Regions from separate parts of the Homo sapiens genome. Here all the other regions are reported to be linked to region 3. The links are microRNA targets in miRTarBase. Many come from high-throughput screens and were not tested one by one. Region 3 holds a microRNA gene; each other region holds the end of a gene's coding sequence.
What was found. Region 3 holds the annotated microRNA hsa-miR-98-5p (UGAGGUAGUAAGUUGUAUUGUU, at 3,376-3,397, shown strand). A microRNA usually pairs through its seed, bases 2 to 8, with sites in the 3' UTR of a target mRNA and lowers its output. Matches are read on the target gene's strand: a 7mer-m8 pairs with bases 2 to 8, a 7mer-A1 pairs with bases 2 to 7 and ends in A, and an 8mer does both.

Region 1 (5,167 bases), not on the chromosome of region 3:
ATGAAAAATCTGAGGGGCCCACTTATCTTCCTGTTTCTGAAGGAGCCAAAATTTTCTCATAAAACTCACTGCTTATCATCTTTTTAAAGCCTCAAAGGCTGAGATCCAATGGATATGGGATGTTCTGTGCATCCTGTAACAATTTCCTGCAGACTATCCAAAATTCTTTACAATGGAAATTCATTTGAATAACTAAACCAACAACTGCAAATTACTTGGGTACTATTAAGCAAATCATACTAAACCACTTATTCTCAACTACTGTGTTGCAAACTGCAACAAATGAAAGATCAGAGATAGTATAGAGCAACCTCTAACAGTAGCAGTGATAGGCATTTATAATAGTCTTTAATGTGGTTTAAAAGTACAATATAGTTAAGAACTACCTTCCCTGGTACAGAATACTAGGTCATTCTGTGACCAGAATAACAAAATATGATACAAAGAGGTAGCATGATGTTAAGTTTCAGGTAGAAGGAAATGAAAAATTGAGGGAGTTATTTAACCTCAGTGAGCCTTATCTTCCTCCTTTATAAAAAATGGCAATTTCTTCTCCACTTGTTTTAGACAGTAAGTTGAAGTGCTTTGAAGAGGAAAAGTGATAAACTCCCATAATTACAGATCCAAATAAGAGTAAATTAAATTGTCCTAAAACCTGGACTTGGCCAGAGTATCAATGACAAACGATCTTCAACTTTGGGACCTTCTTTAAGAAAACTCTCCCTTCATCCCTATATAACAGTATCAGCTTTAAGAGTGAGCTAAAATGAAAGTAATGTAAAGGAGTTTTGAGGTTAGCTAAGAATGACTTTTAAAGTATTTTCTTTAAAAAAAGTGGCATTCAAAGAGCTATTGAACATTTTTGTATCACTGTTACAACACAAACAATTTAAATTCAATATCTGAGATGCAGAAATTGGAAATCTTTCAGAAAATGCTCTGAAAGCTTCATTAACCAAGTTAAATGTTGGGGGAATGGGCTCATTCACAGTTCCCTGCAAAGAAACAACCAATTTTTGACATTTTATATTAAGTGGGAACAGTGAATAAGGCACATAATACGGGTGGCTATTAGCCACCTTTAGTCATTTTTTAACTATAAAAATAAACATAAGTAACTAATGGAATAACAAAATAAAAGTTTATTTTATTAGAATTAGGAATGTTCTTTCCCTCTGGGCAACCTGAACAGTCCAGTTACAATGAAATCTAAGAACAGTTATTTCCACAGCATAGGGTGCTCTATGCACAAAATTACAGGGTTAGGAGCATTTAATCAATTTACCATTCTGATTGTCTCACCAACCCACCCCATCCCATCCCCCAAGTGCTCTATTACCGGGGTTTGTAGCTAAAATAATTTGTTACATTAACTCCTTTTCCCTCTTCTACTAAATTTCAGTTCCTAATCATGGTTGAACCACTTTATTACACAGCAGATTCAACCATTTCAAATGAAGTCAGCCAGTCTTGGATCTGTTGTATATGGGTGTATGTATACACGTGTATCTAACATATTTATTTAAACACACATAAAACACATACAATCTGGGTTGTGGAAAATTACAGATAATTTAGTCTGATATTATATGCTACTCAATTTTACCACTGTGGTTTGTGTCCTGAGCTTTGGATCAAAATTTTATTTTAAATCACTGAAAGTCCATCTGCTGCTGAATGAATTGTTCAAATGAAGCATGCACTTTTCAAAAGACAATGAAACTGACCTCAAGACATGGAGACCTTGGTGCTTACTGTGAATAGATCCCTCAGATAAGACTTCTGTAGGTGAAACAGGGAAGCTGTCATGGCTTGCCTATCCCAGCTGGGGGCACTGAATCTACTAATAACACAAGCAATTCACTCTGGGAATTCTGTCAAATATGGTGGTATCTGTTAAAAGCTTGGAAGTAGAAAAGGGCCAGTTCATCTTGATCATACAAATTAGGGAATGCACCCACAACTGCAATACCCTCAGGCAGTATGCCAACATTGAAATAGAAAGCATCTCTAAAAAGCACTGTTCCTCCATGGGTGAAGACTGGTATTAGGAAGTGCACACACAATTTTTGGGTATTTGTTGCAACAGGAACACGTGGATTTATGACACTCAAACCTAGACACTGCAAAGTTAACTGGTAAGATTTTTTTTTTTTAAACACCACACATACACAAAGCATTTTAAAGGAGCCACATATATCTATATAGCAACTCTGACTGCTTTTCAAAGTTACCAGGGAAAGGAACTTATTCAGGCTTTCTTTAAAAAAACTCCTTAGTTTTAATGTATATCTTTTTAAGATTGATGCTGTCATTTGAAGTAAAATAATGTCATATGGATAATGGGGGAAGAGGGGAGAGAGACGAGAAAATGGAAGAAGCAGACACTGAGTTCAGATTTGCACCTGAGGTGGCAAGGGAGGAAAGGAGAAAAGGTACAGGTAAAGTTGATCCTAAAGCGACAAGTGGTTTAAGGAAGCAGCATTTATACTCAGCAAACATTCACTGATTTTTGATGGGAAAAGAACAGTTGCCAGTAAATCTCCTGTAACAACCTTTTCTAAAAGGAAAAGTAGGGTTGATTCAGCAAAGCCTAACTTAGGCAAAAGGCCAGAGGAAAGTGAACCTACTTCCCAATGGAGTAATAGGATGTACAGTGTAAGAGCAGACAAAGCTGCCTCACAAATGGTAAACACTCCCTAGGCAAAAGACATTTAAAGGAAGACGAAGAGGTCCTCAGCCTCAACTGGTATTTCATATTTAGACCTCTTAATCTAGTTGCCTAGTTCACTCTGCACTCCTGTATAAAACTGACAGATTTACAGATGCTGACCTATTGAAAAATACCACAGCCAGAATGGCCTAAACAGGTATATAGTTAATACAACCACCACCATCCTTTACTTTTAACATAGCTCTTAGTAGGAATTTCATAAAAATGGACATCACAGCTAAAATGCATTATTAATTCTCCTATCTGCTGACAATAAAAAAGCAGCAAACTCAGTGATTTCTATTTAAATGCACTAGATGGGAATATCATGTTCTAGGGGTGTTTGCCTTCAAACCAAACCCACAGCAACACACACAAGCAATTTCGGTATCCACCATTTTAAATTCACAATCTGAGACTAAATGAATGGCTATTTATATTTAAAGCAAAACATTCTCTTTGACACCCTAATGTAGAGAAGGGGTGAGCAGACGAGCCATAACTAAAATCTGAAAAGCAGCAATTAAGGGAAAACCAAAAAGTAAAAGAAATTTTAAAATGCTTCCACTGGATGCGACAGGGGACTTAAGAATGCCTACAGCTGTGTGCATAACATGGGCACACAAAGGCTTGGGTAGAGGCATGATGCCATGGAGGGGGATTAGGTTGGGACAGGTTAATTCATGAGCTGTAGCAACAAAACTCCCTGCTGTACCCCTTAATCAGGTCATGGCATTAGTCAGAGCTTGACCTCCCTTGTCCCTGATCAAGAGCAGGAATTCAAGGCATGAGGCCCATGGCCGGCAACAGACATACCAACACCAGAAAGGGCAAAATAACCTCAGGAAAGTGAAAGAGCTCTAGATAGGTCTTCCAGAGGTGCTAAACCGACACACCTTTATCCCAACCCCAACCCGGGAAAGATAAGCAAACTGAAAGAAAATGCACAGCAAATAGACATAATCTTGAAGATTTTTAAAGAATAAATATTTTTTTGTAATTAAACATTATGCAAACACGTGCCACGCTTGCTTTGTCCATGCATATGCGCTATATACAATTTTGAAAAATACTGTGTTGTCCTCTTGTTTTAAAAGTCATATACAAAGTTTTTATGTTTTTCGTTTGTTGAATCCTCTTGCTGCCTACCCCTTTCCCCATCCCAAGATTTTCTTTACAAGGAACTAAGCATCATTCACTCATGACCTTGGGGTATGAGAGAAAGAGAGTCAGTCTGTGTGTGGGTGTATCTGTATGTGTAGGGGAGGAAGGGGAAGAGGTCCTTTACCAAAGTACAACAAAATGGCTGGTTTGAACATGAAAAGCAGTGTCAAGGAGCTGTTTGAAATTTTAACTGTACTACACTCAGGAAAAGGAAAAAGAAAAAAAAGGAGTCAGCTTTGAGAATGAAGCTACGTTACAAGTTAAAGTTGGAGGGCTTTTAGTGTGTCTGTCACACTTTTGTTGGTGGCCTAGAATACTGTTGTACAATGGTTTATCTACCTTTTTATTACAATATAATTTACTTAAACTTTCCATTAACAAAACAATTCTGGTACTACAGACCAGTGGTGTCAGAATAGGCTTAGTGCCTCCTTGTTTGTGTTTGTTTTGTTTTAATTGCATGAGCACTCTAGATGGTAAAGTTTTCAGAGTTCATTTTATGCAGGGCCATTCTCAGTCCTCAATGTACTCCCACAGATCTTTTTCATAGCCTTCATGCACATGCTGTAACAAAACCCTTCGTCGACTCTCACAGTATCTGTAATCAAAGAGAAAAAAAAAAAAACTTGTTGTCAGCCTCTAATAATAAAAAAAGAGGCATTTACTTATTTTTAAGGCATCCCTATAGTTTATCCAGACTCGGAACCAAGCACCTATTTTTTATTTTAATAGGCACATGTTCAGGTCTAGATGTACAGACACATCAAACTGCTTCTAATATTAAAATGGTATTTTCTGAAAGCCATGATTCCATGGGAATTAATTTTAAAGCAATAAAGTGTTACAAGTTCTGATGGACCTTAGAAATCATAATTCAATCCCACAGTTCTGCAGATAAACAGGTTCAGAAATAATTTCATGGGTTCTTTATTCACGTCCTTAAAATCTCTGTCAACTGTAAAAGTACTGTAAACAAAATATGGTAGCTAAAATTGGCTAAGGGAAGGGAAGATATTGGTTAGGACTAAATCTCCAAGTCTTCCAAACTCCCCAAGTTTCCTACAACTTTCAAAAGACACTAGCATTTGTCACTTTGGGAGAAAGAGCTTCATGTTGAGAAATAAAACATTTTGCATCTCTAGCTTAAGAGGCGGCACATCTTGAAAAATCGACTCCTAGGACAAGTATCTCCTTAGATTAAAAAAATATATATATATATATGTAATAAAAACTCTAAAAAGTAAGTTTCCATAGCTCATTTGTGAATAGCCATGACCCATACATAGGATT
Region 2 (5,138 bases), not on the chromosome of region 3:
ACATTTCACATTCCCTGAGCTCGCCGTGAGCGAGGGGTGGCCCTGCTCCTTCACACACCATGACCTGTCCTCCTCCCAGTGGCAGTCCCAAGTCGGAGCATTTATTCCCATTTCACAAATGAGATTATGAAGTTCCCTAGAGGGTGTCTGTCCAAGATCACATGACTTGTAAGAGGTCAATTCAATCACTGGCCTGGCTTAACTTTAAGTTCTTTTTTTTTTTTTTTTTTCTTTGGGAGACAGAGTTTCGTTCTTGTTGCCCAGGCTGGAGTGCAGTGGCGCGGTCTCGGCTCACTGCAACCTCCACCTCCTGGGTTCAAGCAATTCTCCTGCCTCAGTCTCCCTAGTAGCTGGGATTACAGGTGCCCACCACCACACCCAGGTGATTTTTGTATTTTTAGTAGAGATGGGGTTTCGCCATGTTGGCCAGGCTGGTCTTGAACTCCTGACCTCAGGTGATCCACCCACATTGGCCTCCCAAAGTGCTGGGATTACAGGCGTGAGCCACTGCACCTGGCCAAGTGTACATTCTTAAGAACAACGTACATAGATTGGGGAAAAGTATCTCGTTTTCATTCTGAGAGCTAATACAACAGAGAGTGTACGAAGAGGTCAAACACAGGGACTGCTGGGTGGAACACACTGCCACTCCCCCTCCCCCTCCCCCTCTGTGCCACACACCTGATGTGGCCCCACCCAACACAGCCACGACCCTCCTACCCCCCACCACCTGCCCAGTGTCCTCTGAGTCTCAGCCCAGCAGAGGGAGCAGGTGCATGCTCTAGGCACACACAGGGTACAGGAGCTGGGCGAGGCCAACCATGCCAGCCCCTCGCTCCACACCCCACCGGCTTCCATCCTGAAAGGTAATACACACACGCACACACACACCAAATTCCTGTGTGGGTTTCTTTGTTAGAAAGATCATCCCACTCTGAAAGATGGGGGCCAATGGGAAACAGTCTGCTGGCTCATGGCTGGACCCGCTGAGAGAGATGGTCTGTCTCCCATCCCCATTTCCATCTGGACAGTGCTGCCTGCTAACTCGGATCATGTCAGAATGGTGGAAGAGTCTCTATCCCCACAGGGCTCAGGGACCCTTCCTCACCTCACAGGCCCAAGGGACATGACCGCCTGCCATGTGCATTCGCTCACTCATCAAACAGAACCAGGAAATGAGGTCTCACTGTGCAGAGCCGAGTTTCGTGGGAAGAGCCCGAAACACACTATCACACATGCCTCTCTGAGGTCCACAGCAGCCCACTGTCGTTTTCTAGAAAATCTGATCAAAAAGACTCCCCTGCTTAACACACTTCCAGGACTTCCCATCACACCGGGTAAGGTCCAAAGCCCTCGCCAAAAGAGGTGGTACCACCGGGCCACCTGCTGCCTTTCCCCACCTGGAATGCCCTGGCCCCCTCCTCTCTCCTGTTCACTCTGTTCTCTGTACCTGGGACACATCTGTCACCTCCCTGCCCCCAGCACCTGCTGTTCCCTCCACTTGGAATACCATTCCCCCAGACCCCCAGGGCTGGCTCTTCTTGTCCTTCAGAATCAACTCAAGCCCCACCACCTCAGAGAGGCCTCCCCCAGCAACTCGATCTCAGCGCCTGCGCAGCCTCACCACGCCCGCCTGTCTCCTCACTTGCTTACTCTGCTTCCCAAGGAGCCTGTCTGTCGTCTTCCTCACTGCCACATCCCCACTGCCACATTCCCACTGCCACATCCCCACTGCCACATCCCCACTGCCACATCCCCACTGCCACATCCCCACTAGCTAGCACAAAGCAGAAGTTAAATAAGTATTTGCTAAGTGAATGGATGGATGCATGAATCATCCAGGCAAGTTAGTGGAGCTCTCCGTGCCACGTTTGCCTCATCTGTAAAATGGGGCTAGCATAGTACCCATTGGGTGAGGATGAGAAGAGACCACAGAGGCACCTGTGTTCAGGCACCATGCTTGTGACAGGGGTTCTAACAGGGCATAAATGCAATGCTTTTGACACACAAGGGCAGGCATGACTGTCTTCTGCATGAGAAGAGGGGATTCCTCTTTGGCTCTGGAAGAATGAGTGCCAGATCACAGATGGAAGACGGGATGAGAACCACGGGCTGGGGGTGCTGGGAAGTAGGTGATTCAGGGCGGCTAGTGGGGAGGCAGCAGGGGAGCCTCAGAGGAGGCTGCAGGCGAGGTGGGGCCAGCTCACCCATTTGCCTCAAGGGTCATGGTCTGCACCACACCACAGGGAAGGCAGCTAAGTCTGCCACCTGCTATGGTTGACTGGCTTGGATTTTACACCTGTAAGGAGGTGACTGTCCACTAGGCTGCTGAGGTCAGTTCATAGAGGAAAGGAAAACTCACAGCCAACACCTGGACCCAAAAACATCTGCACTGACCTCTTTCCCAGCCAGGACACAAAAAGGTTATCTCTTTAAATGTGCATTTGTCCTGCGGCCAAGAGGCTGCTGGCACAACACATCCTTCCGTCACAGCGCTGGTGCTGCCAATCAAGCTAGAAGGACGGCCAACCCCAGCTTCCCTTATTCAATCCCCCAGGGACAGGGGAGGGGAGAGAGTGAAGGCAAAGGCTGTGCTGGTGCCTGGGGGTGGGGGCAGGAGAGCCTTACACAAACACGAACCCACACTGGGACATGTAGGCACCTGCCACCTGCTCAGGGGCTCATCCGACCCCAGGTTCCCCTAGAGCCCATGCCCCAGCTTCTGACGAGAGCTGGGCCTCCAGACTGCATAGCTCTGCAGCCTGGCAAGAGGTGTAGCGGTGGTCCTGATGCCCAGAGGGGTTTGGTTAAAGCTGTTCTTTGGTAAGACAGTGGGGGCTGGGCCGTGGAGGAGACTAGGCTGCTGGCCTCTTCCCCACATCTGGGATGCCGGTCAACTTCCCTCCATCTGCTTCACTAAATGCTGCCCACCCTTTAAGGGCAGCTGCCCTCAAGACTACCCTTCCCTGAGTCTTCTGCACCTTGATCTCTCCAGTCTCTGAGCGCCTGTGGCTTTGAGGATCACTTAATAGTTTTCCAGTCGGCCCTAGTGAGACTGCAAGCTCCTATGATTAATAACGACGTACATTTAGTGAACACATTTATGTGGGGCACTATGCTAGGCACTGTAGATACGCGAGGTAGGTTATCGTTATACAAATTTTACAGATGGGGAAACTGAGGCACAGTGAAATGAAATAACTTGCCCCAAGGTCACTCAGCTAGTCTGTAGCTTGTCTGACTCCAGAGCCCTCGCTCCTAACCACACTCCAAGACACCTCTTCGATGCTGTCTTACTTATGTAGTCCCATGCACTATCTCCACGAGTGCCAGACACACGGTAAACATAAACACCCCTAGGTTGAATCTTCCTTCCCTTTCTGCTCTAGGCTACTGGATCTGTGGTTCCTATGAGGGAAGATGACCCCAAAGAGCCACTAGGTGGCAGCAAGCAGCCAGATTCTGGCCTCCCCATGGGAGGGAGGGAGGCAGGGAGGCAAGGAGGCAGGGAGGGAGGAGCTCATTGTTAGGTGTATTAGTACAGCTTGCACCAGGCGCTTCACAGACTCCATCTCTTCCCACTCTACAGAGAGGAAAGGATACTAAGGTTCAGACAGGTTGACAAATGCCCAAGGTCAGGCAGCTTAGAATGCTAGGACCGAAGCCAGGAATGGCAAAACTCAGAGCCCATGCCAGTTCTCAGGAGAAATAAACCCAGGAACCCCTTCAGCTGCATATCTAAGTCTAGGCTCAGGGTGGGGTCCACTCCCCTCCTCCACCCCCGGGGAGCACAGAAACTACCCCTCAGGGAAGAAGTTAGATGGTGCAGGCTGGCTCTGAGGAGGCCTCCACCTAACAGGCACCCTGGCTGGGACAGAGTTTGAACAAGCCTCACAAGCACCAATGGCTCTCGGGGACCAGCGGAGCACCAGAGACCTCTCATCAACCTCCTGGCCACAGCCAAGAGGACACTGGTGCACCCAACCTCCCGCCGAGACTCCTCAGGCCGGCCTCAGCCCTGCCGCCTCCTGCCCTCCCCGCTTCAGGGTCCTTTGATTTGAAACCAGTGCCCCCAACGTGGTCACGGAAGATGGTCATGGAATCCACATCCATTGAGATGGACGGAAACTATCCAGAGAGTTCTGACAGTGTCCCCGTCCAACAACTGTCACCGCCACACCTAAAACCCACCCCCCAGGGGATGGGGCCTCTCTGTGTGAACCGTCCTGGGAGTGCAGCAGGGGCGCACGTGGCTGTGGGTGCGTGGCCCATGCATTCATCGGGCCTCACGGCGTGGCCAGCACCACAGTGCAGGGGCTTGAGAGGTAGCACAGGGACTGTCACATCTTCAGTTCCAGGGTCCGGCGATGTTCCTGGCTGAGTCCATTGGGACGCTGGCTTCAGAACTGCCCGGGGTACGTCTCTGAGCACTGCTTCCGGCCTGCCTCCCAGACGGCCCCCTTGCTCCCCCAGTCCCTCCCGAGGCTCACACAGCCAGACCAGGTCCTCTGAAAATACACAGCATCTTGGGTTTATTTGGGGTTGGGCACCTCAGGTTCAGGCACAGTTTGTTCCTGGGTAGAGTCACAACTGCTCCTCTCAGCTCTCTTGGCACTTCAGGGGGCTGCCCCTGCAGGTCCCCTCCCCACGTCCCCGTTTCCTGCACACACGTCTCTTCCCCCCTCCCTGCTCCCCGAGTCTCTCATTCTTTCACCAGCCTGTAGATGTGGTGCTGAGCCCCGTGCTCACTGGCTGACACCTCAAAGACATAGGCAATGCACAGCAAGGTCTCCTGTGTGTCTCTGTTGGTGACCACCTGTGGGAGAGAAAAAGACAAGGGTTAATAAGGCCCCAGAAGGGGCATGCCATGGCTGCTACCCACACACAGACTCCAGCCACACCCGCAGCACCCGCCGCACACCTGCAGGATGGTGAAGTTCTCCAGCACGCTGTTCATCATGTACTTCTCAGGGAGGTGCTTGAGCTTGTGGATGAAGTTGATCATGTACTCACAGAGCGGGGACCGGTGGATGCGGTAAGAGTAGTGTCCATTCTCATAGCGAGCATACTCTGTCTGCAGGACCCGGGGAGAGCAGGGGCTTAGAATCCCATTCTGACCACCTCCAGCCCAGACCCAA
Region 3 (5,000 bases):
CAGGGTGGTATTCAGAAAAATAACTTAGACTTGTGTGCACATCATCAGGTTTATAATCATGTTCTGCATTTAATAGAGGATGCATGAAGAGGATCTCATGGTAACAGGTTGCAGGGCACCTCTGGACTTAACAGTGATCATGGTACCCACCATTACCCTACAGGTTGCTTGGTCCCTCAGCTGCTGCTGACATCCTTCAGCTGAGCAGCAGCCTTCCCCTACAAAGCCGGGGTCGGGCCCGCCTCCTGGTAGGCAACGATGACGTCCACATCATCGCCCGTTCTGATGATGAGCTGCTGGATGACTTTTTCCATGATCAGAGCACAGCTACCAGCCAAGCAGGCAAGTTTGTGTGGTGAAAGGGAGGGTAGAATTTGTCAGATTCTACTTTTTCCCTGCTGAGGAAAAGCAAGACAGTGTCTGCCCTATAGAAAACCCCCATTTTATAGGAGCCAGAACCACTCAGTGACTTAGCCATGGGCAACAAAAACTTTATTGTCTCTAGGTACTTGTTATGTTCTAAACATTGTGATAGACCTTGGGTCCTTTTAGGGAAATACTGCAATTTTTGGATCGGTGGATCAGTTAATGCTTGACAAGGCCAAGAATCTCATTCCCCTTTGCTGTCCCTACAGGAACCCTGTCCAGCATCCCCACAGCCCTGACCCGCTGGACAGAAGAATGCAAAGTTCTCGATGCTGAGAGCATGCATGACTGTGTTTCAGGTGCGTGGCAGCTTGGTTATCAGGGCAATAGTGAGCCTTCCAGAGCTAGGGCAAACGTGTGGAGAGTTGTTTCCCTGGTTCTCTGTGGCTACAAGCTCTGCCTCTTGGCTTCCTCCCTGACCCCACCAGAGCAGCCTTTGATTTTTGCCTCTTTGAAACAGTGGTTAAAGTGTCCATTGTCAATCACCTGGAATTCCTGAGGGATGAGGAGCTGGAAGAAAGGCGAGAGAAGCGCAGGAAACAACTGGCTGAGGAAGAAACAAAGATAACTGATAAAGGCAAAGAAGATAAGGAGAACAGGGATCAGAGTGCACAGGTGATTCCCAAGGGCTGGGAGGATTCATCTTTGACTGTGTCTGCCGTAATGTGGTTTTGGCATACACATGGCACCAGGAATCACTGAAGAATCCTAGAACGTTCACGTTGAACCTGGGAAATTTTTTATTTCAAATTCACCATACATTGACCTGGTTTTTAGGGGAAAGAATTCAAACCTAGAGGGGAGATTTCTCAAGTGTCAAGGGAAAAACTGGAGCCAGAAGCAGAATGGCTTCTCACTCAACAGTCACACTGCATAGTCTCTACCGCCAAGGACAGCATCAAGACAAGGAGAAAAACCTTATCTAAGTCCATGCTCTTAGTCGCCCACTTCCATTTCTGTCGGTGAACTGCCAGTGTGGGGAATCTTACCGAGATGACCCCATTCCGTCATTTGAGTAAGATCAGCCTAGGTGTCAGATCAGAGAAAATGTTTGTACTCTGAACCCCATCACCACATGTCATTTTTTCTAGGGCTCACATGTATAAAATCACTAATACAATTTTGGTTTAGAAGGAAGTTACCTACTTTTTTCTGAAACTTCTGGGACCTCAGACAGAGATCTTTTAAATGTCTGAGTAAATGTTGATAGAATTATACATTACAGTGTATCACTTGATATAAAAGGGGGAAAAACTGATAGAAATACAAAGAAATAAGACTTGAGAGTGAAAGACTTTAGTATACCCTACTCAGCAGTTAAGGAATCAGGTAGATTAAAAATAAGGGTAGTGAAGTGTTCAGTTAAAATAACAAGGTTGATCTAACAAATATCTTTATATAGAACTTTTTACCTAATACACACATTGTTTCAAACTTGATATAGGATGAAAAATAAGTGAACCTAGCCTGTGACTGAAAAGACTAGAGTGGACAAAATAAAAAATAAGCCCCATGAAGGGAAAAAATACATAGATGAAACCAAGAAATTCTTGCTAGAATGATCATGATCGTGCCCATCCCTAAGGGGTTTTTATTATCCTTTCCTTCCATATTTATTTCCCCCTCAGCCCCAAACAATTCTTGAACCTGAGTATGTATAGAGAAATTGGTCATATATTTGCACAGTGAAATGATCACCTTCCTTTGGTCACATGGCCAAAGCATTCTCCATTAGATCACTGAACTCCTAGATGGTCTGGGTGGAGGATGGTGACTATTACAGTTGACCTCTATCTTAGGTGCTTGCAAAGTCCCACATTGGTCTATCCCTTCTTTTTGCAGTGTACTGCATCTAAGTCAAATGACTCCACTGAACAGAATCTCTCAGGTAACTCTCCTTCCCTTTCTCCCTTCTTACTAATCAATTGGTTGCTTCTTTATCCTGATAGTTCCGAGTAGCTGGCCCACATAGGCTGAAGATGGACACTGGTGCTCTGTGGGATGAGGTAGTAGATTGTATAGTTTTAGGGTCATACCCCATCTTGGAGATAACTATACAGTCTACTGTCTTTCCCACGGTGGTACACTTCTTCTCCGACTGGCTCTGTTCAGGTTCTTGTTCTGGTTATTATCTACTTTGTTCTGGCATGGGTAATGAGGTCATGTGTCTTGTTCATTTCCTGACTGCAACTCTGTCCTCTGAAACAGCATGTTCATGTACATCTTTGAAGTGGCTGGTCCTTTGATGACCACCATGGTGTGGCACTTCATGAGAATAACTGATGACAGTGGTTCTCAAATGCCAGTCCTCTGTGGAAACGAACAAAATCAAGGAGCTTTAATGCCTTTTTCATAAAGCTGAATTTATTCCATTTAAAAGGCTGTTTTTGTATTTAGAGATCATATTCCTAATTCTGTGGTACCAAAATATTTTTATTAAATGATGTTGATTGGATGTTTTTTCTTACATGGCTAAACTAAAAGTTGGCAACCCCTACATTAGTCTCTACTTTTTGTTCTTTTTTTAATTAAATTTTATTGGTCCATGGAATCTAAAAGTCTAGGAACATTGTCTTGGATAGTGTGCTGTTCATGAAGGTAGCTCTCTGGGCTTAGTGGTATGACTGCCGTATGTTTCCTATTCCCTCTGATCTTCTTAACAATGGTCAGTAGCCATTTTGTGATTCTATCAGTTGGTTCATGTGATATCATATGTCTCCCCCACCCATATTTCCTCAGAACATTCTTCTGCCTCCCTACACCTGTCTCCTTTCGCACTTGAGTTGGAAAATGATTGTACCAAAGCCTGCACAATATTTTTTAAAGCAGTGAAGTAGGGTAGATGCCTTGGTACCCTTAATCTAGCAAAAGATCTTTAAAAGAGTCTGTCACCATGTAAAATGGCCTTTTGCCTGCTGCCCTTATTAGAGGATTCTGCTCATGCCAGGGTGAGGTAGTAAGTTGTATTGTTGTGGGGTAGGGATATTAGGCCCCAATTAGAAGATAACTATACAACTTACTACTTTCCCTGGTGTGTGGCATATTCACACTTAGTCTTAGCAGTGTTGCCTCCATCAGACAAAGTTGTAGATGTTCCTTGGATAATTTGGACTGGAAGAAAAGAGACATGGAAGGGGACAGATGGTGTTTAGGGTGAGGCAGATGTCATTATAAAGTGACTTGTCTTTCATTAATTGGAGCATATAATTATTTTACCTTTGGGCATGAACTCATTTTGCTATTCTTCAACTGTGTAATGATTGCATTTTATTAGTAATAGAACAGGAATGTGTGCAAGGGAATGGAAAGCATACTTTAAGAATTTTGGGCCAGGCGCAGTGGTTCATGCCTGTAATCCCAGCATTTTTGGGAGGCCGAGGCGGGTGGATCACCTGAGGTCAGGAGTTCGAGACCAACCTGGCCAACACGGCGAAACCCCGCCTCTACTCAAAATACAAAAATTAGCCAGGCTTGGTGACACTCGCCTGTGGTCCCAGCTACTCAGGAGGCTGAGGCAGGAGAATTGCTTGAACCCAGGAAGTGGAGGCTTCAGTGAGCTGAGAACACGCCACTGCACTCCAGCCTGGGCAACAGAGCAAGACTCTGTCTCAGGAAAAAAAAAAAAAAAAAAAAGATTTTGAAGGGCTGGACGCAGTGGCTCACGCCTGTAATCCCAGCACTTTGGGAGGCCGAGGTGGGTGGATTGCTAGAGCTTAGGAGTTTGAGACCAGCCTGGGCAACATGGCAAGACCCTGTCTCTACTAAATATACAAAAAATTAGTCAGGTATGGTGGCACATGCCTATAGTCTCAGCTACTTGGGAGGCTGAGGTGGGAAGATCACCTGAGCCCGGGAGGTGAAGGCTGCAGTGAGCCATGATTGTGCCACTACACTCCAGCCTGGGCAACAGTGAGACCCTGTCTCCAAAAAAAACAAATAGAGTTTTGAACGAAATTCTGACCATTTCTTGCTCCAAATAGATGAAGTGGGAGGATCAATAGGATTTTGGTAGTTAGATTTTCTGTGTACCTATAGGTCAGAGACATTTAGCCTCACCCTATATGGCCTGAAATCTTCCCCCTTCCACCTGCAGGGCACAGAAAGGATTTTATTCTTAGAATCCACAGAGTCAGAGCTCCAGTTCTTGCATTCTTGGGACAGAGATAGCACTGTGCCTTAACCTTCATCCTTAGTATACCAGACCAGAGATGTTCCTTGGAGTATTTTTGTTGTGGGGATGATCACTGGCTGGGTGGGATACTTATCAGGCCACATTTGCTGATTGGGGTGGCTCCCCTCATCATTGGCTGGTTGCCCCTTAACCACTATTATTGTTCTTTCCGAGAAAGATGGGACGCCTATGCCTGACAGCTACCCAACAACCCCATCTTCAACTGATGCAGCTACATCTGAGTCCAAGGAGACCCTTGGCACTCTGCAATCCTCACAACAGCAACCAACACTCCCAACCCCACCAGCTTTGGGAGAGGTTCCTCAGGAGCTGCAGTCTCCAGCTGGAGAAGGGGGCAGCTCTACACAGCTATTGATGCCTGTAGAGCCAGAGGAATTGGGTC
Region 4 (5,167 bases), not on the chromosome of region 3:
GAGGTAGAGGGTAGGAGGGGTTAAGCCACGAGACGAGGCATGCAGAGGGGTGGCCTGGATGGGTCTGCACTGCTGTCCATGCACACGGGGAGCGTTGCAAATTGTGCTTCCCAGCCCATAGTGCCCCCACAGAGGAGCCCGGGAGTCCCTGGTGGGCGTCTGTGTTCCTGCAAGGAGCCAGTGGAGATGGCCCCGTGAACTCTCATCCCCCTTGCCTTGGTGGGGTCTCTGGCAGGTTTATGGAGCCGTACATCTTTGGGAGCCGCCTGGACCACGACATCATCGACCTGGAACAGACAGCCACGCACCTCCAGCTGGCCTTGAACTTCACCGCCCACATGGCCTACCGCAAGGGCATCATCTTGTTTATAAGCCGCAACCGGCAGTTCTCGTACCTGATTGAGAACATGGCCCGTGACTGTGGCGAGTACGCCCACACTCGCTACTTCAGGGGCGGCATGCTGACCAACGCGCGCCTCCTCTTTGGCCCCACGGTCCGCCTGCCGGACCTCATCATCTTCCTGCACACGCTCAACAACATCTTTGAGCCACACGTGGCCGTGAGAGACGCAGCCAAGATGAACATCCCCACAGTGGGCATCGTGGACACCAACTGCAACCCCTGCCTCATCACCTACCCTGTACCCGGCAATGACGACTCTCCGCTGGCTGTGCACCTCTACTGCAGGCTCTTCCAGACGGCCATCACCCGGGCCAAGGAGAAGCGGCAGCAGGTTGAGGCTCTCTATCGCCTGCAGGGCCAGAAGGAGCCCGGGGACCAGGGGCCAGCCCACCCTCCTGGGGCTGACATGAGCCATTCCCTGTGATGTTCACTCTCCTCCCAAAGCAAACCACAGCCAAGCCTGTCTGAGCTGGGAGTCCCCTTCCCCAGCCCTGGGTCAGCGGCATCCTCAGTCGTTGTTACTTACTCAGCTGATGTCACAGTGCAGACATCCACCGTTCCACCACAGAACCAGTGGCTGAGCGGACCAACGTTGCCATGTGCGTTTGCTCTGTGGGGAACAGAGCACAGAGGGTGAGCGACATGTGCAGAACGGCCCCTTGGCTGCAGTTAGGACCTCAGTGGCTGGTATGGCCAAGCTGCTAGAAGATGCTGCTGTCCCTGTGATCCCAGCAGCCCTCCCTTCACCGTGACCCCTGACCTTTGTCAGGAAGGTGCAGTTTTTCTTCTCAATCTAAATGCCTTTCAGGTGGGCCGCTTCCTTGGCTACCTGGTTCCAGGGGGCTGTTTTGTAATGAGATGCTGCTGGCAGGCCACTCAGAGGCTCCCAGCTGGGTTGGTGGGACAGCCAGGCCAGATGACCTGATTCCAGCAAAAATAAAACTCAGATTTGGGCAAAATGAGACTTGGAGTTTGGGGCTCTGTCTCGAGTGGGTTTGCTTTCATCCATGTGGTGTGGTTTTTCTTCAGGCACACACTGGGACCCCAGTGATGAGAGATGGGACGGGCACTGTGTGTGTGAGGCGCATGAATGAGGTCAGCAGAGGTGCCAGCTGCCACTAGAGGGCACCGTCTTCAGCAGTGGAGCTCGTGACAAGCCCACAGCCCGGCCAGCCTCATTCAGCAGAACAGGCTTGGTGTGGACCCAGTTTCAGGAAAGACGGGCACTTGCTGACAGGGACGCTTAACATCCCTCACCTGTGGGGATACAGCTGTGTTCCTGGAACAAGCTGCGGCCTCCTCCCAGCCCCATCCCGAGCTGCTTAGGACATAGGCCCCCCATGCACCTGACCACCCAAGGAGCCGTCTCTGGGCAGAGTCTGGGCAGCAGGGCCCTGTGGAGTCTGGTGCCCTGGGTAGGGTGAGGCCTGCCCTGCAGGAGCGGCACAGGGCAATGGGAGGCTGGAGTCCAGCGCCTATCCCTGTCCCTTCAGGGTTAGGCTGGTGAGGGGTTCATGGTAGGTGTCCCCAGGTTTGTCACAGGTTTGTGATCTGGTCGGGACAGGGAGCTGAGCTTCAGGTTGGTCTCTGGCCAGCATGGCTTTAATTTGCAAAGCCGAAGTCTGAAGATGCACGTGTATAAAGGCAGGTGAAGTGAGGGCCCCTCCAAGGCTCCCCCTAGAATCCCTCTCAGGGTGGGCAGGTGAGACACTCTGAGCTGGGTCTCCTGTCCCACCATGCTGGGGAGGCCAGCTGCGGGGAGCCAGGACCCTGGAGATGAGACAGGAGTACCAAACACTGGGGACTGACTGGGGGGCTTCCAGGAGGTGCCCCTGGAGCTGCGACTGATCCTTCCCTGGGAGAGGCCTTTGTAGCTTGGGTCCAGGCCTGGCCCTTCTCTGCTAAGCCATTAGTGAGGACGTTGCAGGCAGCTCCAGGGGTTGGACCTCAGGAGACACAGTGGGGCACAAGCCTACAGGAGGGACGGGGCGGTCTCTTCTGGGGTCATTAATTTTGAGGCCGGGTGGAGGGGAGCAGCCCAGGCAGAGCTGTGGCTAACCCAAGGCGCCTTGTAAGAATGGTGGGGGCTGGCAGGCCCGGGCAGGCTCCCTGGGTCCCGACCGGTCCCCCTTACCTTGCGCTGATGGCCTGCGTGGCTCCTGTTGTCCTCCCACTGGCCCCTGCACCTGGCACAGGCCGGCGAGGACCCGCTGAGGAGCTACGAGTGGGCGCTTGCTGGGCTTCCAGGGCAGGAGGGGCCCTGGCCGAGGGGATGACCCAGTGGATAAGCAGGCACTAGTGACCATGAGGAGCAGGGAGGGACGGGAAGGGTGCAGCGCAGAAGCCGCGGGGGCCATGCTGGGACAGCCAGGGTGGGCCTGAGGGCCCCCTCGGGGAGTGGAAAGAGCCAGCTCCCAGGATTCAGAGGGGCTCTGGGTGAAACAAAGGTTGAGGGCTGAGGGGATGGGGTCTCGCTGACCCCATCCTTGACTCTGCCAGGAGGGGCCCTCCAAGTTTTCCACCCTGGAGATGAACCCCAAGAGCCCCCAGAAGAGGCCAACGGAGATGATGAGAGTGCCTGAGGCTGGGGAAGGGCAAGGGAGCTGCCCCAGGAGTGGGGAGAGGGGCCCCCCGGCCCTTTCCTCCTGTGGCCACAATGCCTGCAGGCCCCATTAGAGGTGGCCTTCTCTGGACTGTGGCAAGGCTGTGCCTGGACCAGCTGGTGTCCCAGATGGTGGGGAAGACCAGAGGCAGCCACCAGAGGATGGGCCTGGCAGAGCTGGCTCAGGGCAGGGTGGGGTGGGGAGGGCCAAGGAGCCTTTCCAGCCCTGCCGAGGCTGGGCCACTCCCACTCCTGAGGCCCGGAAGATCCCTATTTGCCTGGAGGAGCTCAGGGCAGCCCTGAGGTCAGCACAGGCCAGGCTTCCGCTCTGATCCCCCGCAACCCTCCCTGGGTGTGTGGGGGGAGGGGACAAGAGGGGAGAGCCTGCCCTGGGCAAGAGCAGGGTGTTGGGGCAGGAGCCTAGCGGCCCATGAGGATTGAGGCCAGCTGGGCCAGCTACTGATGTGGGCCCTCTGCTGATGTGGGCCCTCTGCTGATGTGGGCCCTCTGCTGATGTGGGCCTCTGCTGATGTGGGCCCCAGCCCTTGAGATGGATCTCATGTCATCCTGGCTGGAGGTCTACACAGACACGGCTCTGTGCCTGATCCGGAGAGCAGAAGGTCAGGTGGGCAGAAGTGACAAGGGCCGGGCCGGGCTCTGATGTTCCTAGGTCGCTGTCTCTGCAGAGCTCCACGCAGGAGACTGGCCAAGGGGGCGACCCCCACTCTCTCCCCAAGTGAGGGACAGGGACTCCTCGACACCAACAAGGGCCAGTGCTGGCTGGGGGTGCAAGTGTGCAGGGGAGGTCTCCACAACCAGGGCCCCTGGATGGCTGGGAAGGCCTCCTGCCCAGATGTCACCAGGTGGCTCCCAGGGTCCTGCTAGAGTTCTGCCTCTCCAGCAGCCCCCAAGTCCCAATCCCAGCACCCTAGGCCTCCTCCCGCCCTCACCCCACCACCGTCCAGCCCCAGCTTGGCCAGGTGCAAAGTGACTTTTCATATTCCTATAGGAAGGAATAGCCCAGAAATTCTTCCTGAACTTCTCCAATTCACATGATGGCGATGAGCGACTGCATTTTGTTCATGTTCATATGTTTGGGCCGTCCTCCCTTTGGCTCACCCCAGAGTGAAAATGAGTCAGCCCTGTTCCTGGATGAGACCTGCAGGGTGGGAGTCCCCACGCAGGCTGCACAGAGAAGCTAGAGCGTCACCTGGGGGCAGAGCAGCGACCGTTCCTCGTTCCTGCTTTCCTGGGCACGTGTGGAAGCTTTGCCCCCACCCCACAGATGCTGGACCTGCTGTTCCACAGGCGAGCGTGTCCCGCTCCACCGCACAGGGGCTCCTCGCTCCCACACCCACCAACTGTGGGTCTTGGCAATGCCCCTTCACCCCTCTGAGCCTCGGTTGGTTTGTGTGAGAACTGGGAGCTAAGGGGACCTCGTGAGGCTGCTGTCAAGCCTGGGTGGGACGGGCCGTGGAAAGCGCTCTGCTCACGCCTGGCCCTGGGGAATGGGCTGCCCGGGCTGTAGTGTTCTTATTTATGATTTTCCTCTCCCCTCCATGGGGAAGCTGTCTGCCCTAGGCCTCACTTGTATGTGCAAAGCAGTTTTCCCACCTGTAGAGAACATTCCAGATTCCATGTGGGAGGTTCCCATCCTAGGTATAGCAGAGCAGGACCCTCTGGGGAGGGCTGAAGAGCCCAAGGGCCACTCAGATATCTGGGAAGGAGCTGGTTGGGGCTCATTCAATCAACAAACATGAAGCTGCCCTCCCGGACCTCCCTGAACCCACAACAGCGTGTACGCACTGATTAAACAGTGTGGAAATAAGGAACAGAATGTGGAGAGGCACAGAGGCAAATGTTTAGGACGACTTTTGTTCTATTGAAAGTGTTTAAAGCCCGGATTTTCTTGAAAGATTTCCATGATTTAGCACAAGGAAAATCTTACAGATGAGGACACTCGTATCCAGAAGGTGGAGACATCTGCTCCAGTCACAGCCAGTGTGGAACCTTGGCAGAGTTTGGGTCTCTGAAAGCAGACAGGGATTCGGGGACATGTTGTTTGCTGCAGCTGATCCCAGGAAGCCTGAGGGAGGACCTGGGAAGGTAGGCCTGGAGGTGGGAAGCCGGTGAGTGGCCTTGAGCAAACCCTGCAAGTGGGG
Region 5 (5,167 bases), not on the chromosome of region 3:
CCTGCACGTGGTGTTCGGCCGCTTCTTCTGGATCGTGCGGGTCGTCCTGTTTTCCATGTCCTGCGTGTACATCCTGCACAAGTACGAGGGCGAGCCGGAGAACGCGGTGCTGCCGCTGTGCTTCGTGGTGGCCGTCTACTTCATGACCGGGCCCATGGGCTTCTACTGGCGAAGCAGTCCCAGCGGCCCCAGCAACCCCAGCAACCCCAGCGTGGAGGAGAAGCTGGAGCACCTGGAGAAGCAGGTCAGACTGCTCAACATCCGTCTCAACCGGGTGCTCGAGAGCCTGGACCGCTCCAAGGACAAGTGAAGGTCAGCCGGCCGGGCGGGTCCACAGTTACCAGCACGCTGTCTCAGAAAACGAAAACGGAGGAAAAAAACCCCAAACCCCAAACAATCTTAATAAACACGACTGAGCAAGAAAGTGGCGCTGTGTAGGGCTATTTCCACCCACCCGGCAGCTCTTAGGACACATTCCCAGAAGAGCGGAAAGATCATTGACGTGGAACTACACACGAAGTGTAATTAGTGGGGGAAAAAATATTTTTTAAACAAAGGATATAACCATATTTAGTTGTACAGTAAGAGAAATTTATCTGTGCATAGAGCATAAAGTTAATTTTTTCAAGCATTTAAATACATCTTTTGTAAGGTTTTTTAATAAAGGCAGATTGAGTCAAGTTTATTAAAACTTTACATGGAGGGGAAGAATATGCTAATTTGACATTTGAGAAAAGTTTAAATGCGAGCGTTTGTTTTCACAGCTTAGGGATTGGTGGGTGAGGTCTGTGTGCGTTATTTTCATGTTCCCAAACTGTGAGCTTTATTTCATGTTATTTTTGGTGGATGTTGACTTAGTTCATGAATGTTGTCACTTCTAAATGTGGACAGTTGGGCTGCAGGATGCAACTCAACCTCTTTTGGATCCTAGAGACCCCTGCCAAGCCCCCATCAGTCCTATTTTTAAATGAAGACATCGCCATTTCTAGAAGACCTGAGATTTTCTTCCCTCTGTGCTTCGATGTATTTTAACCTCAACATTTTGAAACGGAAAATGCAAGGAGGGGCCAAGAAATGTCCTGGGGATTTGATGCCAGGAAGTACCTGGTAAGGATTGGAGATTGCTCCAGAATCTACTGCATGTCCCAATTTGCAGTTTGCTCACTAGGGCTATATACAAAAGCTATACCCTTGAGGGTTTTTTTTTTTTTCTTTTGATTTCCTCAGGACCTTAGAGGGAAAACAAACAGTAGCAGCTAATATTCTCAAGTATATTGCTGCTTAGAAAGATCCTCAGGAACAATTAGCAGCAATAAGCAAGCCTTTGAAAAGATCTGAATTCTTTTTCCTGAAATATTTACGATACACAGGTGCTTTTTATCTGAAATCTGTTGTGTCCTCCTTTTAGGCAGTCTCTGTGGGCAGAGAGTGGGACTTGCGAGGTGGACAGCTGTGGGGATCCTGGGCAAGGGAGTTTCAGAAGGTGTGGCTCAGGGGCTGGTAGAAACCCCCTTTTGTTAGGACTTGTTTTTTAAAAAAGAAAGCCCTAGGCCAGGCGCAGTGGCTGATGCCTGTAATCCCAGCGCTTTGGGAGGCCGAGGAGTATGGATCACCTGAGGTCAGGAGTTCAAGACCAGCCTGGCCAACATGGTGAAACCCCCGTCTCTACTAAAAATACAAAAATTAGTCAGGCATGGTGGTGGGTGCCTGTAGTCCAGCTACTCAGGAGGCTGAGGCAGGAGAATTGCTTGAACCTGGGAGGTGGAGGTTGCGGTGAGCCGAGATCACGCCACTGCACTCCAGCCTAGGCAACAGAGCAAGACTTCATCTTAAAAAAAAAAAAAAAAGCCCAGCATTTTGCAGCTTTGAAGCTGCTGGGGATCACGACTGTCTCTGTGGCCCTTACCTGGCCACAGATGTACCCTGGCAACCCGCTCACAGTGCCCTGCGTGCAGGTTTATAGATAACCCCTGCCAGACCTGCTACAACCAAGACCTTATGGTCCAGGTCTCAGTTTGGAGAAGATTTAGCTGTCTACCACTTCTTGTGTAGTGTTCCTGTGAAGTTTTATTTTTGGTTGCAAGTATCTGGAAAACAGATGCAGATGTTTTTGTGGATGTTGTTGAGACTTTTGAGACTTCTGTTTCTAAGGTACACATGATGGGACCCAAACTCTCCTGGAGAGTTCCATTCACTTCCTGAAACGTGCACCTGTTTCAGGTGCATGTTTATTCAGTGTGCATGGATATTTAAGATTTGCTGGAGCAGGCTGGGCAGGGTGGCTCACCCCTATAATCCCAACACTTTGGGAGGCCAAGGCAGGTGGATCACCTGAGGTCAGGAGTTTGAGACCAGCCCGGCCAACAGAGTGAAACCCCGTCTCTACTAAAAATACAAAAATTAGCCAGGCCTGGTGGTGGGCGCCTGTGATCCCAGCTACTTGGGAGGCTGAGGCTGGAGAATCGCTTGAACATGGGAGGCGGAGGTTGCAGTCAGCTGAGATCATACCACCACACTCTAGCCTCAGCAACAGAGTGAGACTCCGTCTCAAAAAAAATTATTTGCTGGATCGAATCTTTTTTTTTTTGAGATGGAGTCTCACTGTCAACCAGGCTGGAGTGCAGTGGCACCATCTCGGCTCACTGCAAGCTCCGCCTCCTGGGTTCACGCCATTCTCCTACCTCAGCCTCCCAAGTAGCCGGGACTACAGGCGCCCACCATCATGCCCGGCTAATTTTTTATATTTTTAGTAGAGACGGGGTTTCACCGTGTTAGCCAGGATGGTCTCGATCTCCTGACCTCGTGATCCGCCCGCCTCGGCCTCCCAAAGTGCTGGGATTACAGGCGTGAGCCACCGCGCTGGGCCTAGATCAAATCTTTATCCATGCACATTGGAACACAGGATTACTGGGTTGAAATCATTCTAGTTTTGTCATTTAGATACTTGTAGATGAATCTATTTTAGCACAAGGTATAAATAACTCGGGAGGTCATCTCTATCTTCTTTCCTTTTGTGCATTTGGCTATACCACGTTTAGGTACTAAAACAGCTTTGCTTATGTTGGCCAGGGGAAAACATGGCATTCTGTGCGCAAAGCTAATGATCGCCAGCCCTGCCTTGGCCCCTCCCTTGTTTATGGTCATTGTAAGATGCCCGCATGTTAAGGCTTAAGCTGTCACTGGGCTGGGTGTAATACCCGCTTCATTCCTCCTCCCACCCTCTTACCCGAAACATGAAGGGCACTGTGCTCTATTGAGATCTCGATAAGATCATCATTTTAACTTGTATTCAACTGAGGGAGGTAACATGATATCTGGGTGCTGGTGGATTGAGACCTCAAGCATCAATTCAAAATTGCTGTCGAAAATATGCACTATTTTTTTTTTCCACTCTGGCTAAGTGTAGGCTCTGAAGCCAGTTTTATAGCTTGATACATTCTGGTGAAAGATGTCTTCATTTTTAATGAAAGAACCTACAGTTAGTAGGTGTCACCTCAGGGTAGAAATTCTGATAGAAATTCTGATTATTTGAAACTCTGATAGAAATCCTAGATGCTAGATTTGAAGAAAACCTGGGTTTTATTGCATAGATTTCACCTTTTCTGGGGCACATCTTACCCCAAAATAATTGGGGATTTTTTTGTTCCTTCTCCATTCCATGGAACCTTGTAGGGTGTTGGGATTGGGCCTCCCCTCGCCACCCGCCACATGTCTTTGTTTTTTTCTCTCTTTTGTATGTGGAAAAATGTATTTTTGTACCATATCTCATACCTGGAGAGAAACCTTTTTTCTATCTTCAGGGCTGTAGAATATATTAGCGTAACACTTCACTGAATGTGACGTAAAAGCATTCTGATGAAAACTGGTTCTGTTATAATTAAGACTCAGTGTTTAAAATATCTTAATCAGTGTTAATTTCCCAGTGTTTCAGTATCACAGTAAATACTTGTTTTACTGAGAACAGAAAATAATCCAGAAAAGGAAAAGGACCAGCCCTCTCTAGATTGCTGGAATTGTATGGATGTGTTGGGGTTGGTTTAGTGATCTCTTCCTTGACACCCTAGCAAAGATGCTTTTGTGGAGTGCAAACCTTTCATAAATATACTTTCCAGGCTGGGTGCAGTGGCTCAAGCTTGTAATCCCAGCACTTTGGGAGGCCAAGGCGGGTGGATCACTTGCGGTCGGGAGTTCGAGACCAGCCTGGCCAACATAGTGAAATCCCGTCTCTACCAAAAAATACAAAAAAAAAAAAAAAAAAAAAAATAGCCAGGTGTGGTGGTGGGTTCCTGTAGTCCCAGCTACTCAGGAGGCTGAGGTGGGAGAATTGTATGAACCTGGGAGGCAGAGGTTGCAGTGAACTGAGATCACACCACTGTACTCCAGTTGAGGCGACAGAGTGAGACCCAGTCTCAAAAAAAAAAAAAAGTGTGTGTGTGTGTATATATATGTATATATATATACACACACACACACTTTCCAATACCAGTCGGCATTACCCGCCCTTTGGTTTCTTTTGCTTTGGATTTCAGCCCCCATATCATTTCTGGTAACAGAGCACAGCAATAGAATTTCTGGGAAGCAGACCTTGTGAATCGTGCCTGTGTCTTAATTCACAAAGGGTAAGTGAATGCCGTTGAAAGGTGTTTCATACACTTACCCCAGAAATGAGAGCCTGTCTCATGCAGGAGTCGGGAGGCAGCGATGTCAGGGAACTGGGACTATGTCTTTATGACTGTGATGGTGGTAACCAAGTGGGGTGGTCCCCTCTGGGGAGCTGAGTAAGAACGCAAAGGTTTGGGTCAGTGATTAGGAAGACTATAATATGACTTTGTGCATGCCCGGGAGGGCTGCCTTGTAGAGAGGATGTGAGCAGCTTAGTCGCTCATCTGGCCCTGTGATTCAGGCTTATGGAGCGTTAAGAATAACAGCTGTCAAATGGCCTAGACATGGTTAATGCAATTTGTTGCTAGTGGAAATCCTGAATTGCTTCCTTTCTGTGATCACTGCTACTTCTTAAGATGCTTTTGATGAATGTCATCTGCCTTACAAGTTGACACCTGATAACTTCTCCCTGATGGGTTTCCGAACTGGCTGACTTAACCAAAAAGCCAGCTCTTGCCATCTATCTTGCATTAAAAGGAATTCCTGAGGCTCCTAAGGGGTCAGC
Region 6 (5,167 bases), not on the chromosome of region 3:
GGGCCAGAGGAGAGTTTTCGAAGTGGGGGCTGGAAGCTCTGGGCTTCTCTTAATAGGTATGCTTGTGGTTGGGCCACCTCACAGACTTCCACAGCCACCCAGCTGGGCCAGAAGAGAACTGACACAAGGGAGAAACCAAAAACAAAACAGAACACACCACAGACCCTAATCCTGGGCAGCGGGGTTAGAAACAAATGGGGTGAAACTGTCACAATCCGTGTCCCTTTTATATATAACTATACTGAGGTATGGTGTCCTTGGCTGCCGTCGAGCCCTGGCAACTGGGGGCTGGCCACGGAGTACAAGTTGAAAACCACACAGCAAAGTAAGGCACTTATTCTCACACACAGGCGCACGCACGCAATCTGCTTGGGACAAAAAGTCTACAGGGGTTGCCAAGCACGAAAGGCTACATGGAGACTGCAAATCCCAATGCTCGTCTTTATAGCTCTGCCACTCCAGGGAACTCCATAAAAGAATGAGGCAGCTTTCACTGGGGAGAACTGGTCTTCAGCCTTTGCAAGGTGGAGCTAACACTCATGTGAGTAGTGGGGTAGAGTGAGAAGTTGGTAAAGTCTTCCTCACTGGGACAACCTTGAGCTGGAGAGAGATCCTATTTAGGTTTTCCAGTCATCTGACAATGACCTAATCCTCCAATAATCCTGAAAATCCTCTCCTGAGAAAAGGAACCATAAGCTCGGAAGGCAGAGTGAGGGAGGAAGAGCACTCCATTGTCTTGACTCAAAAGCTTTCAGCACTCCCTCTGTTAGAGGAGAGAGCTTAGAACATCAAGAATTGAAGTTTGTGCACTTGTGCCATAGGCCCTTAAGCAAAAGAATTAGTTATGTGCAGACTTCCCTACCTCTCACACCAGGCCTAGAAAAACCAACTAGGAAGGCTGAAGCATACAAAGGAAACCCAAGCGAAGGCCTTTTCTAGGCACAAGGGGGTCGGCAACCCACTTCCAATTAAAGCATCCATGGAAGATAAGAATTTTGTTGTGGAATCCTGGGAGGAGATGCACTCTTTCACCCAACCTCTTATTAGCTGCTTAGAAAAAAGAAGGGGTACTGACAAAGGAGGTCCCAAAAGAGACCCCAGAAGCACACACCCACCCCAAGCTTCAGGGGTTCTTAGGGTCCCAGGGTTTCCGGTCAAGAGAAGGATCTGTGAACGTGGCCAGGGCAGAGGTGTCTATTGGGGTTTCTTAAATGTTGGGAAGTTATGCCTTGGGACATGAACAGACAAGTTTCTCAGCAACCATTTCGGTCTGGTGGCCCAGACACACATGGGATTAGAACTGACTCAAAAGGGAGGACAGCAGATCCCCCGCCGGCTCAGCCTGCTCCCCTCTCACCCAGAACCATCCCCTACCTTCAAAAGGAACACATGCAATTTATTAATAGTGCAGCTATCAGCGCCCGGATGGTAAAAATAACTCCCATCATCACTGCACCTCCAAGGAGGGGAGCGGGTAGCACAGATCCTTGGTCCACCAGCGCCACCTCCCTCTCCTCCTGCTGTGTCTGTTGGCTTCCCCACAAATGTAAGTTAGTTAGCCAGGGCTGTCGAGAGGCCACAGTTGCTGGGGTAGGTTTACGTCTTTTCTCCTGCTCTTGGTGCATGGTGCTGAGCTCTCAAGCTTGGAGGTGTCTGGCAGAGCCTTCACAAATGGCTTGGCACTTTGGGGCAGGAGAGAATGCATAAAACTGAAGAAAACAGCCAAAGTGGCCAAAATTAGAACAAGCTAGCCCAACACGCTCATAGGATGAAGTGGAATTATTTCAGCTCTGGCAACACAGTCTGTGTCAACCTGCCACAGACTTGGCTCTGCTGTGAAATAAACGTGCCAGGGAGGGTGGCAGGGGGAGGGGGGTGACAAAGTACCCTACAACTACCCTCTAACCACCCCCCCCAAACATCCCTGAAGCCCAGGCTGGCAAGATGCCAGCCCCACTCATGGTCTCAGGGTTTTTTTTTGTTTTTTTTTTTTTTTTTACATAAAATAAACCCTTAGCACACCCGTCCACTGGGAAGCAGAGCCTAAGCTGACCCCGGCCACTGGGCTGGTGGGACCACATCCAAGGCATGAAGTACTGGCAGCACGGGGAGCTTGCAAGAGACAGGGACATGAAGTTGTGGCGTCTCTGGCACGCAAGTGTCCTGGGACAGAGCAATGGAAACCTACAGGCATGAGAATGAGGGTTGCTTGATGGCAAGATTTCAGCTGCTCTGCTCACACTACCTCTCCAGCAACTGGCACAACGCAGGCACCTGGCACATCCCAGCATGCCATACATATCTGTTGAAGCCACAACTCAACAGTTTAACCTGGACTCACCTGAGAGAGGCCTCCTGCATGTGAAGCCCTGCCAATGACACAGCCTGGAGAGCACCTAGGATGGGTGTTCTCTAATGGGGGAGGAAGGTGGGCTTAGGAGGCTGCTGGCTGAACATGCGATTTGCAGTTATTAGGCAAGGTGGGGGGCCTGAACTCAATTATAGACTCTGTCAGGGCTGTTTGACTAAAGTGGCTAAGGGATCCCATATCAGGTCTGCTGTGTTGAAACCAAACTGCCCTTTTACCAACGTTTCTGCTGTGCAGCCCAGAGAAGTGTCAGGGAAGGAGAGGGAGAAATGGGGGAAATACATATTTTCAAAAACACTGTCTCACTTCCTAAGGGTAATCAAAAGCAACCACGGGTAGCTCTTCCCATTTCTGCAACCTTATCGTAGAGAGGGATGAAGGCCTCCAATGGCGTTAGGAAACAAATCCCTCAGTTACTGGGAAGCTAAAATTTATCTATGATGTAAGTGACTTGGAGAAGGGGAGTTGCCTTGATGAAAAGACCCATTTCCCCCCTTTTGAATCTAAATCCAAGGTTTGGTTTCTACTGTGATGTCAGAAAGATGACCAGTATTCCAAATGACACTACTATTCCTGCACCTACCAAGAACTACTCCCCTTTGCCTCAAAACAGAGTTCGGAGGTTCTTAATTGGGACTTTTGTTTTTTTAGACAGAATTTCGCTCTTGTTGTCCAGGCTGGAGTGCCATGGTACAATCTCCGCTCACTGCAACCTCCGCCTTCTAGGTTCAAGCGATTCTCCTGCCTCAGCCTCCCGAGTAGCTGGGATTACAGGTGCCTGCCACTACACCTAATTTTTTGTATTTTTAGTAGAGATGGGGTTTCACCATGTTGGCCAGGCTGGTCTTGAACTCCTAACCTCAGGTGATCTGCCCACCTCGACCTCCCAAAGTGCTGGGATAACAGGCGTAAGCTACTGCGTCCGGCCGTAATTAGGACCGGCTTTTTAAAGCTGAACGCCCCTTCTAAAAGTCCTCACAAGGCACCAAAAGGACTTGGAGGCCTTCTCTTCAGGTGGAGGGGAGGGGAAAGAATCTGTGAGGGAAGGGGCCAGAAAGGCGCCTATCATCTACCCAGAGAGTGACTCTCAGTCAGTCATGGTTTCATGCAGTCTAAAATGCTGTAGTTGTGCTCAAAAAACGACAATTCCAAAGAACACTCAACAAGGGCGGCCAGATGAACAGCGGTCCAAGTGACCCTCCCTGAACACCAAGGGACCAGCATGGGGCTGAAGCCCTTGAGACTTAGTGTTTCTGCAGCTAGAGATGAAGTCAAGGTAGTAAGTTTGGCCCCTGACGGGGCTGGCTGGCTCTGGAGGTGAGGACCAGCCTATCTCAGGCAGGTATATGAACTGCTGTTTGGTTTGGTTTTGAATGCTTGTGAATGGCTGAAAAAGCAATGGCGACTGGGACTGCTGGAGAAAGGCCTAGGTCGACTCCACTGTGGGTTCTGCCACCATTACCTTTCTGGAGGTGCCTGCTGCGCAGTTTGCTCTGCTCTCGCTCTAAGCAGTGGGAAGACGTGTCCCCCCCCACAGAGCGACAGCAGGCTGGCTTCCAATCCGCGGCCAGCCACTGGTAGGAGCTCGAGTCACGGGACCCAACCGAGTTCACACCATCCTTCTGGATTGAGTTGTCACGTCCCAAAGCCAAATGCCTTGGCATTTACAACGAGCAGTGGCTGCTGTGCCTCAAGATGGTACATGCAGAACTGGAATCATATATCTCGTCAGTTAATCAGCACCAAGGAGATTATGATCCGAGATGGCCGCTCTCTTCTTGCCCATCCACATGAGGACCACCAAGGGCCTACCAGCCCCAGGCTTCTGACCGGCAGGCCCTGGGGGACCGAAGGACAGGACTGCAATCTTAGCTCCCCTCCCATTGTAAAAATCAGACAGAAAAATTGCAAGATAAGGTGAAAATAGGAAGTAAAAAGGAAAAGCAGCAGCCATAAGGCAAGAGACAGAGCAAGCAGAAAGGTGCCAGCCATGGGCGCCTGGCGTTCCAGAAAAGCCAGCACAGGACAGGAGTGAGGACAGGAGGTGGCCTGAGGGGGAGAAAGAGAAAGATTTTTGGCTTTATTGAGAATGGTTTGTGGAAGAATAAGAGGAAGCCAAGAAGAAGGAAAGCGAAACGCCCCCTCCCCCCATTGCAAGACAGGTTTCGGCTGTTTGAGACGGAGCATCACAGGCAGGAAGGAGGAGGCAGGGAGGGGGCCTGGGCTCCTTGCCCCCTGCTCGGCCCCCACCAAGAGGATTCCTGTTCTTAGCACTTTGGCCTTAGGGAGACTTGAGTTTCTTAGTCCGTGGGGAGGTTCCGTTCTCTGCCTTCACCACTCCATTTTCATGGTAACCTGGGAAGTGGAGAGAGACAAGCATACATGGTGTTTCTGCTGGAGCTAAGGCAGAAGAGGGGAGGGTGGGGCCAGGCCAAGGAAGGGGCCCGGGCAGCCCAGCTGCTATACATGGATGCACCAAAGGGGCGCCAGGCTGCAGCCTTGCACAGCAAATGCAAGCCAGCAGACGGCTCCCAGGAGGGTCCTGTCTTCCCCAGGGCCCTGGACTAGTGGCCCTGTTTGAGAGGCTTGGTCTCTGACTGCACTTTAGCAGGAGGGGCCTGGGATGACACACAGTAACTCAGCAACAACAGAGGCCAGCCTGCCCAAGCCTGAGGCTGGGGCTAGATACTCGCCGAAATCACTTAGATGCTGTCACTGCTCACTGTCCTCAGTTCTTCTCAGGCCCCTGCAAGGCATCAGCCCACTTCCAGTTCAGCAAGAACTCCCAGGAGCAGTGGC

Region 1: miRTarBase lists ARIH1 as a target of hsa-miR-98-5p. Seed matches in the 3' UTR shown: 7mer-m8 at 446-452.
Region 2: miRTarBase lists TEAD4 as a target of hsa-miR-98-5p. The part of its 3' UTR that is shown has no 7-base or 8-base seed match.
Region 4: miRTarBase lists MRPS2 as a target of hsa-miR-98-5p. The part of its 3' UTR that is shown has no 7-base or 8-base seed match.
Region 5: miRTarBase lists BRI3BP as a target of hsa-miR-98-5p. Seed matches in the 3' UTR shown: 8mer at 2,678-2,685.
Region 6: the mRNA of TRAM2 is a reported target of hsa-miR-98-5p. Seed matches in the 3' UTR shown: 7mer-A1 at 243-249.

Annotation. Positions count from the first base shown.
Region 1 is chr15:72,582,516-72,587,682 of GRCh38, reverse strand. It overlaps ARIH1 (ariadne RBR E3 ubiquitin protein ligase 1), which reads right to left. Exons shown (of 14, transcript NM_005744.5): 14 at 1-4,475. The coding sequence ends at 4,391. It overlaps MIR630 (microRNA 630), which reads right to left and starts at 466; the gene lies at 370-466.
Region 2 is chr12:3,040,043-3,045,180 of GRCh38, reverse strand. TEAD4 (TEA domain transcription factor 4) reads right to left here. Exons shown (of 13, transcript NM_003213.4): 12 at 4,922-5,074; 13 at 4,505-4,816. The coding sequence ends at 4,703. Among named protein-coding and RNA genes, the nearest start is that of TSPAN9, 35 kb to the left of the region's middle.
Region 3 is chrX:53,554,696-53,559,695 of GRCh38, reverse strand. It overlaps MIR98 (microRNA 98), which reads left to right and starts at 3,355; the gene lies at 3,355-3,473. HUWE1 (HECT, UBA and WWE domain containing E3 ubiquitin protein ligase 1) reads left to right here. Exons shown (of 84, transcript NM_031407.7): 57 at 164-342; 58 at 636-725; 59 at 887-1,041; 60 at 2,269-2,314; 61 at 4,776-5,000. MIRLET7F2 (microRNA let-7f-2) reads left to right here and starts at 2,422; the gene lies at 2,422-2,504.
Region 4 is chr9:135,503,307-135,508,473 of GRCh38, forward strand. MRPS2 (mitochondrial ribosomal protein S2) reads left to right here. Exons shown (of 4, transcript NM_016034.5): 4 at 236-1,365. The coding sequence ends at 827. It overlaps LOC101928525 (a long non-coding RNA gene), which reads right to left and starts at 3,141. Exons shown (of 3, transcript NR_121579.1): 1 at 2,538-3,141; 2 at 930-1,013; 3 at 1-395. RefSeq lists a silencer at 877-1,031 and an enhancer at 2,060-3,033.
Region 5 is chr12:125,025,121-125,030,287 of GRCh38, forward strand. BRI3BP (BRI3 binding protein) reads left to right here. Exons shown (of 3, transcript NM_080626.6): 3 at 1-5,167. The coding sequence ends at 310. THRIL (TNF and HNRNPL related immunoregulatory long non-coding RNA) reads right to left here and starts at 2,303. Exons shown (of 1, transcript NR_110375.1): 1 at 323-2,303.
Region 6 is chr6:52,498,548-52,503,714 of GRCh38, forward strand. TRAM2 (translocation associated membrane protein 2) reads right to left here. Exons shown (of 11, transcript NM_012288.4): 11 at 1-4,723. The coding sequence ends at 4,650. Among named protein-coding and RNA genes, the nearest start is that of TRAM2, 76 kb to the right of the region's middle. RefSeq lists an enhancer at 552-601.